Linked DNA regions of Homo sapiens: region 1 is linked to region 2. Evidence: fine-mapped expression QTL. A gene starts in region 2. The other region holds a variant in brackets. All regions are shown on one strand. Distances are from middle to middle.

The links. PIP is the estimated chance that this variant, and not a neighbour inherited with it, causes the effect. A credible set is the group of variants that fine-mapping cannot tell apart.
Region 1: its variant is the best candidate, but not a certain one, in a credible set for the expression of NFIC in whole blood (TOPMed, PIP 0.66).

What each region holds. Positions count from the first base shown.
Region 1 is chr19:3,400,324-3,405,686 of GRCh38, forward strand. The region is part of intron 2 of NFIC (nuclear factor I C); the gene reads left to right. Among named protein-coding and RNA genes, the nearest start is that of NFIC, 36 kb to the left of the region's middle. The variant A/G (reference allele first, on the strand shown) is at 2,345.
Region 2 is chr19:3,363,459-3,368,821 of GRCh38, forward strand. NFIC (nuclear factor I C) reads left to right here and starts at 3,125. Exons shown (of 11, transcript NM_001245002.2): 1 at 3,125-3,208. The coding sequence starts at 3,179. RefSeq lists silencers at 2,754-2,843, 3,294-3,443, 3,734-4,133.

The DNA of each region.
Region 1 (5,363 bases), 37 kb after region 2:
AAAATTAGCCAGGCGTGATGGCAGGTGCCTGTTGTCCCAGATCCTCAGGAGGCTGAGGCAGGAGAATGGTGTGAACCTGGGAGGCGGAGCTTGCAGTGAGCCGAGATCACGCCACTGCACTCCAGCCTGGGTGACAGAGTGAGACTCTGTCTCAGAAAAAAAAAAATTCTGCCCTCGTGGAACTCACAGTTTGGTTCAGGCGATGGGCAAAGAACAAGAAATAAATGTCAGTTTAGGCTTAGTGCGGTGGCTCACGCCTGTCATCCCAGCACTGTGGGGGGCCGAGGCGGGCAGATCACCTGAGGTCAGGAGTTCAAGACCAGCCTGGCCAACATGGTGAAACCCCGTTCCTACTAAAAATACAAAACATTAGCCAGGCATAGCGGTATGCGCCTGTAATCCAGCCACTGGCAGGGGCTGAGGCAGGAGAATCGCTTGAACCCGGAAGGCGGAGGTTGCAGTGAGCCGAGATTGTACCACTACACTCCAGCTGGGGCCACAGAGCGAGACTCCGTCTCAAAAAATAATAATAATAAAAATAAAAAGAAATAAATGTCAGTTTAGCGATAAGGACTATCAAGAAAAATAAAGAAGGCCAAAGGAAAAGAGGCTGATGGGCTGTGCTGGGGAGGTCCCTGAAAGGCTGTCTGAGGACCTGACATTTGAGCTGAGACCTGAGAAGTGAGGAGGAACCAGTTATATGAAGAACTGGGGGAAGGCGTTCCAGGCAGAGGGCACAGCCCGTGCAAAGGCCCTGCGGCAGGACACACCTGGCACTTTGGAGGAACAGTGAGGAGGCCTGTGTGGCTGCAGCAGAGTGAGGAGAGGAAGAGAAGGAGGAGGGGAGGGCAGTTTGTGCAAGGCCTGGTGGGCAGTAGGAAGGACTTGGGCTTTGACCCCAAGGCAGGTGGGAGCCATAGAGGGCTATGGGCAGAGGAGGGACCAGCCCTGACTCAGGTGCTCACAGGCACCCTCTGCCTGCTGCAGGGAGGACAGACTGTGGGGGGTGAGGGCAGGAGCTGGGGACCAGGGCAGAGTGGACCGCCCTGGTGCAAGCAGGCGGTAGCAGGGACAGAGGCAGAGGAGGGGGCAGAATCCAGGTCAACTCCGACGGTGTGAGGATTCAGTTGCTCACCTGGGTCGTTTATACCTTATCTGAGGCTGGCCCTTGCTCTCCTTGCCCCGTCTCCTGCCTGCAAGCCGCACCTGCCTGGGCACATGCAGGGAAGGGAGCGGCGCAGCACTGGGCACGCCTGGGAGCTCTCCTGCAATCAGGACTTTGTTAGCGGGCAAGCTGGGATATGGGTCCTGGTGCCCGGGAGGCCCGTGGGGCTCTGGGCTCCTGCCAGGGTCCCAGCCCTAACCCAGGTACGCCACCCACATGGCAGGGTTATTCTCTTTTTTTTTCTCTTTTTTTAGACAGAGTCTCGCTCTGTCACCCAGGCTGGAGTGCAGTGGTGCGATCTCAGCTCACTACAACCTCTGCCTCACAGGTTTAAGAGATTCTCCTGCCTCAGCCTCCTGAGTAGCTGGGACTACAAGTGTGCACCACCTCACCCAGCTAATTTTTGTGTTTTTAGTAGAGACGGAGTTGCACCATGTTGGCCAGGCTGGTCTCAAACTCCTGAACTCAATTGATCCAACCGCCTCGACCTCCCAAAGTTCTAGGATTACAGGTGTGAACCACCGTACCCAGCCTATTCTCATTTATTTTCTTTCTTATTTTTTTTTCTTTTTTTTGAGACGAAGTCTCACTCTGTCACCCAGGCTGAAGTGCAGTGGCACGATCTCAGCTGACTGCAACCTCCGCCTCCAGGGTTCAAGCAATTCTCCTGCCTCAGCCTCCCAAGTAGCTGGGACTACAGGCATGTGCCACTATAGCCAGCTAATTTTTGTATTTTTAGTAGAGATGGGGCTTTGTCATGTTGACGACCAGGCAAGTCTCGAATGCCTGACCTCAGGTGATCCACCCAGCCTCAGCCTCCCACAGTGCTGGGATTACAGGCTGGAGCCACTGCGCCCAGACGGTCCTTCCTTTTCATGCCTCCTCCTTCCACTCCCCCATGTACCATGTCTCCTTGTCTCTCTTTTTCTCTCTGCTCATCCCTCCCTCTCAACTTTCTTTCTACAAATATTTATTGAGCACCTAGTCTGTATCAGGCCTTATTCTAGCCACTGAGGGCACAACAGAGATCTAGACAGACAAAGCCTCTGCCCTCAAGGAGGTGACATTCCACTGGGGAGATGAGCAAACACCCGTGCAGTCACTAAGCAACTAAGCAAATCCATAGGCAATCACTAACTTCCTCTGAAGGAAAGAAAACAGAAGGCTGAGATTGAGGGT[A/G]GCCAGAGGCTGCTTGAGGTGAAGGGGCTCAGCGTAGACCTCTCTGAGAAGGGAGCATTTGAGCTGAGACCAGGAGAGATCTCAAGAGAGAGCAAGCAGTTAGCTGTTTAGACAGAGGGAACAGAATGTGCAAAGGCCCTGAGGCAGGACTGGGCCAGGTGCATTGGAGGAACAGCGAGGAGGCCCCTGTGGCTGGAGCAGAGTGAGTGAGGGGGAGAGAGGGAAGAGGGGAGGGCAGAAAGCGGACAGGACAGGTTGTGCAGGGCCTGTGGTCCTAGTCCTCCACTTTGACTACTCCCCCAAATCTCTTAATGTTCCTCACATTCCTTTCCCTGACAAGCATTTATTTTGCACCTGCTGTATACCAGATCCTATCAGGAGAATCCCAAATATTCATGCAACAAGTTCATATTGGGTGCCTACTGTGTGCCAGGCTCTGCTGGAATAATCACACTCATTTGGCTGCAGGCATTTATTGAGTGCCAGCTGTGTAAAAGCATTTATCGAGCACCACCTGTGTAGCAGGCTCTGGGGAGAGAGGCCACATGAAAGCTTGGGAAGGAGAAAGTTTCCTTCTACCCCCTTTCAGGTTTGTGCCCTCTGGTTTCCAGCCCCCTCCCACATTCAAGGCAACATTTAAACCTCTGGGTTCAAGTTCCGTTGTCCAACTGCGTGGCCGTGAGATCTGCGGCAAGCCCCTTCCTCTCTCGGATCTTCCGTTTCCCCCTTTGTAAAGCAGAACACTCCACAATCTGATGTGTTTACAACTTGACATCTACTTTTTGCAGCAAGGGAAACTGAGGCACAGAGCAGGGCGGAGATGTGTCTACCTCTCCCTCCCCAAGCAAGACTGGCATGGAGTCTATTCTCCTGACCCCACGCCAAAGCCAGGGCGTTTGGTATTTTGTTTTTTCTTGGAGGCCCAGAGAGGGGCAGGGCTTGCCTGAAGCCACACAGCACCGGGCAGGCCTCGGAATTGCGGAGAGCCCTCCCCTGGGCGCCTGCCCGGGCTCCCGCGCCTTCCTCCTGCCTCCTTTGGCTGGGCCGCCAGCCTTGCCTCCCGTCCTCCGGACTCCCCGCGGGCTGCCCAGTTGGAGACGCGCCCCAAGAAATATCAGAAGGAAGGGGAAGCCGGGAGGGGCCTCCGCCTCCTCCCGCCACCCCCCGCCGCGCCCGGCTGCCCCCACCCGGTGCCCGACATTGGCAGAGAGTGTCCTCGGGCGCTTCCGACTGGCCCTGCCTGCTTCGTGTGGCCACTGATCCCTTCCGGAGCCTCTCCATGGGGACGCCCGTGTGTGCGCTCAGCCAGTGGCACATGTGGCTCCCGGGGCTCCCTTCTCCACCCCCCCAGCCCCTGGCCTGCCCCTTTCCCCCCATCCCTTCCCGAACCTCTCCATGGGGACGCGTGCGTGTGCGTTCAGCCCGTGGGCACATGTGGCTCCCAGGGCTCCCCCCGAGGCCTGCCCTTCTCCCCCCCCCGTCACAGCCGCCGAGTCAGGCCTGCCAGGAAGGTGTTGGGGGTGGGGGTGTGGGGAGGCCTCAGCTTGGCTGCTGGGAAGCCAAGAATTTGCTCCAAATGTAAACAGCGAGTTATTTTCAGTCCACTCCCCCCCACCCCGGGTGGCGTTGACACATTTGACATTGGCGGGACCGGGAGGGGGTGGGGGTGAGGGTGTGCGTGCGGGTATTTTTAACCTTGCTCCTCACATCCCTGGAGTGGCTGGTGCCGAGTGGCAGATAATGGGGAGGGGGCGCGGAGGCGTGGGGAGCCCTGGGTGGCCGTGCGCGGGTGGGCGCTTGGCAAGGCCGCCCTGCTGTTGGCACCACGTGTTTAACCCCTCAGAGGCTGCAGAGGGGCTGGGGGAGGCGGCCCAGGGCCCAGTGGTGCCCCAGAGGCTCCCTTGTCACCTTCTCCTGGTGTCCCCCCACCCCCACCCCACCCAGGAGGGCAGGGCCGGGTGCCCGAGGCCGGTGCCAGCCTGCGCCGCCCAGACCTACAAAATGGCCGCCAAGGCCGGAGAAACATCTGGAACAGGGGAAGGGAGAGGCGAGAAAATGGCCGCCAGAGGGATGATGTCATGGGCGGCGTGGCCTCCCAGAGCGTCCCCAGCACGGGGCGAGTCCCTACGCGCAGGCCTCCGAGCAGGGGCCCTGCGGCCTCCAGGGACCTCCAGACCCGCTGCCCAGGCCGGACACCCACAAAGAGTGACACCGGGGTCCCCAGGGGTCCCCAGAGGCGGGCCCGAGACCTGGGGGAGGGCGAGGCCAGCACTGGGCCTCCAGTCCCAACAGCCCGATGCTGGGGACGGTTCCGGGGCGGTGGTGGCCGCTGACCTGACCCGCAGGACACCGAGGCGTCCACCAGCGCCCGGGAGGGCCCGGAGCCAGGCCATGGAGCCGGCGGGGGCCGGGTGGAAAGAAAAAAGAAACTTTTCTTTGAAAGTGATTCCGAAGCAGGTTGGCTCCGGCCCAGGCGGCCCGGCGGCAGGGGAGAGGGAGATGGAAAGTATGGGCCAGACTTAAGGAACGCAGGAAGGACGAGGCCGGGGAGGCCCGGGATGGAGGCCAGCGTCCTGGAGGTCACCCCGTCCACGCCTCTGCCTCTCGGGCCCCCCCAGGTCACATCCAGATTTTCCTCCCTGTCCCTGGGGCGGGCGGGGAGTGCGGAGAACATCTATGGGCTTGTGTTTTTTCCTCTTTTGATTTGTCCAGACAGGCGATGGACAAGGGCTGGGCAGGGGTTTTAGGTCATCTGCACTGTCAGGATGTGGAGGCTCAGAGAGGGAGAGTGCTTTTAGTGAGGTCACACAGCACTGGCAAAACTGACAGCTGCTTCCCTCCTTAGAGCATCTTGGGGAGGAGGAAGTTCTCTATGGAGGATCAGGGTCCGTACTGGAATTCCTTTCTATTTTTATTTAATTTAATTTATTTATTTATTTATTTATTTTTGAGATGGAGTTTCACTCTTGTTGCCTAGGCTGGAGTGCAATGGCACGATCTCGGCTCACTGCAACCTCCA
Region 2 (5,363 bases):
ACGGGGTTTCGCCATGTTGGCCAGGCTGATTTTAAACTCCTGACCTCAAGTGATCTGCCTGCCTCGGCCTCCCAAAGTGTTGGGATTACAGGCGTGAGCCACTACAACCGGCCAAAGGAGATATGTGTGTGTGTGGGTGTGTGTGCATGTGTGTGTATGTAAAGGATACTATGTATATTTGTATAAATACATGTGTACTCTTTAAAACCCTAAATGAGATCTTGAATTTCCTTGCTGGGTCTACAGCAGTGGGGTCTCAGCCAGGGTTGATTCTGTTCCCATGGGACACTTAGCCATGTCTAAGGACATTTGTGGTTGTCACGACTGGGGGGTGCCCCTGGCATGGAGTGGGTGGAGGCCATGGACTCTGCTCAGCACCCTGCAGGGCCCAGGACGGCCCCAACCCAGAGAGCGATCCAGCCCCAGTGTCCACAGTGCCAAGGGGGAGAGCTCTCCAGCTTTCTGTCCCCCCACTTGTCTCTTGGGGACATAACCAGTTGGGAGCCACTGGTTTTACTCAGCTGCATAGTGTCCCAGCCTGTGTTGGGATTACTAAACCGGTCCCCCACAGATGGACAGCATGGCTGCCTCCAAATTGTGGGCATTAGTTTTATAGGTGGCAGTCAACTCTTTTGTGCTCCTGTATCTGGGACAGTTACAGAGATGCCGAAGAGTGAAATAACTGTAGAGAGAGTGCTTTGAAAAAAAAAAAAAATGAGCCAGATTGTGCTCGAAAGTGCCAGGAGCTAAATCATGCACCCATCTTCCGGGCCCTCCACATGCAGGTCCCAATCTACCAATTGCCTTTTTAAAGAAACTATGACGTACAGTTCCCTGTTGTAACCACGGGCAGGTATTTGCTGACTTGCCTACAACCTGGAGGGTTATGAGCTGGCGTCGCCCCATTTCACAGAGGGAGAGCCGAGGTGCAGAGAGACGAAGCTGCTGACTGGAGGAGACATAGACCCAAGCAGCGAGCCCACGCGGCAATTTAGGGAACCAACTGTGTGTGCTGCGGGGGTCCCTTGCCACCCAAACTGGGATATAGGCTGCTGTTCGTACACTTGCAGAAGTTTCTCCCTGCAGCTACCGCCACCAATAATATTCACACAGCCTTCCCACATGCTATGTAAAGACTCCAACCTTCCCCACCTCCCAAGATGCATCCTGTTACTATAGCCATTTTACAGATGAGGAAACCGAGGTTCCAAGAGGGGCAGTCTCTGCTCTCTAAACTTCACCTTCCAAAGGATTCTAAGCTGCTGAATGAAGGCTGCAGGCAGGGTGGTCTGTACAGGGGAGGGAGGGTGGAAGGCACGGGGTCTGGAAGTCTAGGAGGAGTGTCTGAAGTCAACTGCAACTTTTAAATATCTGTGAATTTTAGATTTCACCCTGTATGTGTCCCTAGCGTGTTTTAATAAAATAAATTGCTTCACGTTATATTGGTATGTGGATTTCCAGATACACTTCTCACCATTTAATTCAAATGCTCCCCACAGCTGCACAGTGGGTTTAAAATACACAGACACACACATTTATGGACCGTTCGTGATGTACTAAGCACTGTTTGAATAATGTCACCGTCATGCAGAGGGGAGCCTGTGGGGGGCCTAGGGAACCTACGCTGCAGGAATTCTGCTCCCTCCTAGTTTACCTGTCAGACCCTGGGCAAGTGGCTTCCGTTCTCTGGGCCTCAGTTTCCTCTCCTGTAATGCCTGAGGATAATGGGTGCTGGTATCTTCTGCGCCCCTGGGCCTGGGGCACCTGCCCCAGCTTGGTGAGAGGGTATCATTTGTCCTTGGGAAGCTCAGAGAGATGAGGTGAAATGGCCAAGCTTTCTAAGAATGTGTCTTTAGTGAACATTTGACCCAAGGTCAAGGCTCTGCTAAGGTCATTGTCCTTATCCCCAGCAATCCCACAGGATGGGCATCTTTAAGCCACTTTATAGGGGAGAACCCTTGGGATGGGAATGAGAGACACAGCAGCCTCTGAGCTAGCCTGGGAGGATCCAGGGAGTGAACCGGGGGAGGGTTGGGGCCCTGTCATCAGATGCCCTGGGGGCTCAGACGGAGGCAGGCCAGGTCTCTGCCCTGTTACGTCTAGAAGGAGAACAGAATGTGGGCTCCAGGTCCAGATGGCCTGGCTCCAAGCCACACTTGCCATACCTCAGTCTTGAGATCTGTGAAAAGGGCACACCCCTGAGGCAGGTGGAAATTATTGGATACCCAGGGGGAGGCTGCAAGGGTTTATCTGGCCAGCTGGAGATCCCGCCTGGACACCGTCCTCCTGGGGTGCTGGAGAGACACACAGGCGAGGCCACCCCTCCCCTGCCCCTTGGGTGCTGGGTGAAGAGAGCAAATTCTGGAGCCTCCCGTGTTAGCCTGGGCCCTTCTGGCCAAGGAAGGGACAGCTGCACACAAGCCCCTCTAGCTGGGGACCCGCAGCCCCTGCCTGGCTCTGGGGGGAGAAGGGAGCCAGGGTGCTGTGGGACCAGCTCACCGTGCACCCAGGGTCGTACATCTTTAAGGGGAAAGAGGCGCGCTGGCCGGCCTCTGCGCACGTCACTTCTTCATTCCTTCCCTCCCCCCTGGCTCTTTCCTCCAACTTCCCGGCCAGCTCGGGGGTGATGGGGGGGTGGGGAGGGGGGGCCTTAAAAATCCACCCCTGGCCCCTCAATGTCCAGAAACAACCCTGTCCCCCCTCTCCGCTTGATCCGAATTGGGGTCGCCCTGCAGTCCTGGGGTCCTGGTCTAGTGCCCTGGGGCATTGCGTAAATACGGGAGGAGCGGGGGGGTCCTGAGACGTCGGGGGAGGCTCTCCTTTCTCGCTCGCGCCCTTTTTTCCCTCGTTTCTTTGAAAGTTGGGTGTTGAGAAGTGGGAGGTTCGGGGTGGGAGGGGGAGGGTGTCAGAGGGTAGAGAGAGAGACAGAGAGACAGAGACGGGGGAGAGAGGAAGAGAGAGACGGAGGGAGAGAGGGACAGAGAGCGAGGCGGGCGGCGCGAGAGAGGGAGAGCAGGAGGGAGGAGGAGGGAGACCGAGGGAGGAGGCGGCGAGGAGAGCGCGCCGGCCGCGGGGCGGGGGGGGGGGTTGGGGGGGGCGGGGGGGTGGTTTGGAAAAATGACTCAGTAAGTTCAGCGCGCCCGCTCCGGCCGGCCCTGCGCCTCCCGCCGCGCCCGGGATGTATTCGTCCCCGCTCTGCCTCACCCAGGTACGGTCCTCGCCCGGCCCCCCGCCGGCGCCCCCGCGCCCCCCGCATCCCAGCCCCGGAGTTTTGAAGCAGGAGGAGGCGGGACGAAAAAGGCGCGCGTCCCTCCCGCCATCCCTGCCCGGGATGCCCCCCGCGCCGAGGGCTGGGGTCCGGTGGGGGGATGGGTCAGGCTGGGGTACCCCCCCCACACCCTTACCTACCGCGGACCCCCTACGCGGGACTCCCGCCCAGCACCCCCAACCCCGACTCTCGGGACCTCTCCCGGATGTGGGGCTTGGTCTGCAGATTTGCGTCCCCCCCCCACACACCGACGCACTCCGCACCCCCGCCCCGACACTCGGAAAGGTCGGGGTGGGGGCTGGCCCCCCTCCAGCAAGGGCTCTGCGGGAAGCCCCCCGCCTGCCTCTGAGAGGAATCTAGGGGGTCGTGATTGGACCCTGGGTCTCCCCAGCTGGAGAGAAAGGGACCTCTCATGTGTTTTCCCCGTGTCCCCCCACCAAGGTTGTGCGGGCCGCCCTGGCCCTCGGTCGCCTTTCCCTCGTTATTGGCCCACGTGTGCATGGAGGGGGAGGGGGCAGGAGAAGTTGGAGGCCCAGGAGGGGGAAGGGTGCTCCGGCGGCCCGGCTGGGTCCCCCCTCCTTTGCAAGCCCCCCAGCACCGTCCCGGTATTTTCGCTGCATCGATTCTGGATTCTGGATTCTGGATTCTGGAGCCGCCGCCGGGAGGAGCGGGAGGCCCGGCGCTCCGGGTCTGGCCCGGGCACTGCGGCGCTGCGGACGCCCTCGCCAGCCCGGCACCTGCCCCGTCCCCTCCCCCTCCCCCTCCCCCTCCCGTAGCCTCTCACCCCTGGCCGCACTCCCAGACTGCCCCGGGGCCGAGCCTTGTGCAATGGCCGAGGGGGTGTGTGGGGAGGGGGCGGCTCCCCCCGGGGACTCCTTCCAGCCCAGGCTCCCGGGGACCCCGAGGTCTGCAAGTTCCGTTTTCTAGACCGCTGCTTTCCTCCTTACGCAGTGTGTCTTTAGGCTGGAGAGGTTCTGGCCTCAGTTTCCCCTGAAGTGAGGTGCGGCTAAGGCCGGTTCTGGAGAGGGGACAGTATGGCGGGCAAACTGTAAAGTCCCGGCACGTGGGGGGTGCGATTCCAGCGAGGGCCAGGCCCGTCTTAAGAAGCACTGTGTGGGGAGTATATGAGTCCCCGGCTTCCGCTCCAGGGCATGGTGCAGTGAGGGACCCCCCACGCCAGGCATGCTCCTTGGTAGGGTCTTTCTCACCGGCCCCCTGCAGCCGACAGGGAATGTGGGAGCTGGTGCTGAGGGGGTCTGAGGTCTGTCCTACCTGTGATCCCCTGAGTGACCTTGGGTAAGTCCCTGTCCCAGCCTCAGTTTCCCTTTCTGAGCAGCTTTGGGGGGGGGGTTCCCGAAGAAGGCATCTCTTTGAAGTTCTCCAAGAACAACTAGGGTTCGAGTGGGCACGCTGTGTGACCTCGGGCAGCCTTTGAAGTCTCTGGGCTTGTGGGGTGACTGAGGTGTCCCCGCTCTGTCCTCACCAGCTGGAAGGAGCCATTTGGGAGGGCTGAGCGGAGGGGAGGCTGTTCCAGGCTGGGGAGGTTGGAAGGCTGCCTGTGCACCCTGGAATTCCCCCATCAGGGCTGGTTGGGAGACATCCTGGTTGCTGGGGTGGGTTGGGGGTTAGTAAGAACCCCAGTCCAGGCTTTGCCTCAGAGAATTGCTAACTCGGCCTCAGTTTCTCCAGGAACAGGGCAAGGACCAGCCAGGAGGGCTGTCTGTGGAAACCAAAAAACGGAGAGGCTAAAAACTAAAAACTATCCAGGGGTGCTGCGTGCAAGAGACAGAGATGAGAAGACAGAGACAGGCAGAGAGACAGAGGCAGAGAGCTCCCAGGCCAGAGTGGGGACAGCGAGTCCCAAGTGCAGGGGGCTCCCTCCTCCCCTGCGATTCTCCTCTCTGCCCCGCCCTCCACCCCAGCCCTGTAGTGGAGCTGGGGACCCCCTTTCCAGTTTGTCTTCAGCCTGAATGTAATCCCCACTGTTCCCCCAAGGCCCAGCCTGGTCTGGGGTAGCCAGTGGGGTGGGCTGGGGGACTCAGAAGGACCCTGAGTGCCCCATGCAGGAGCCTCCCACCCAAGTCCTGGCTGCCTG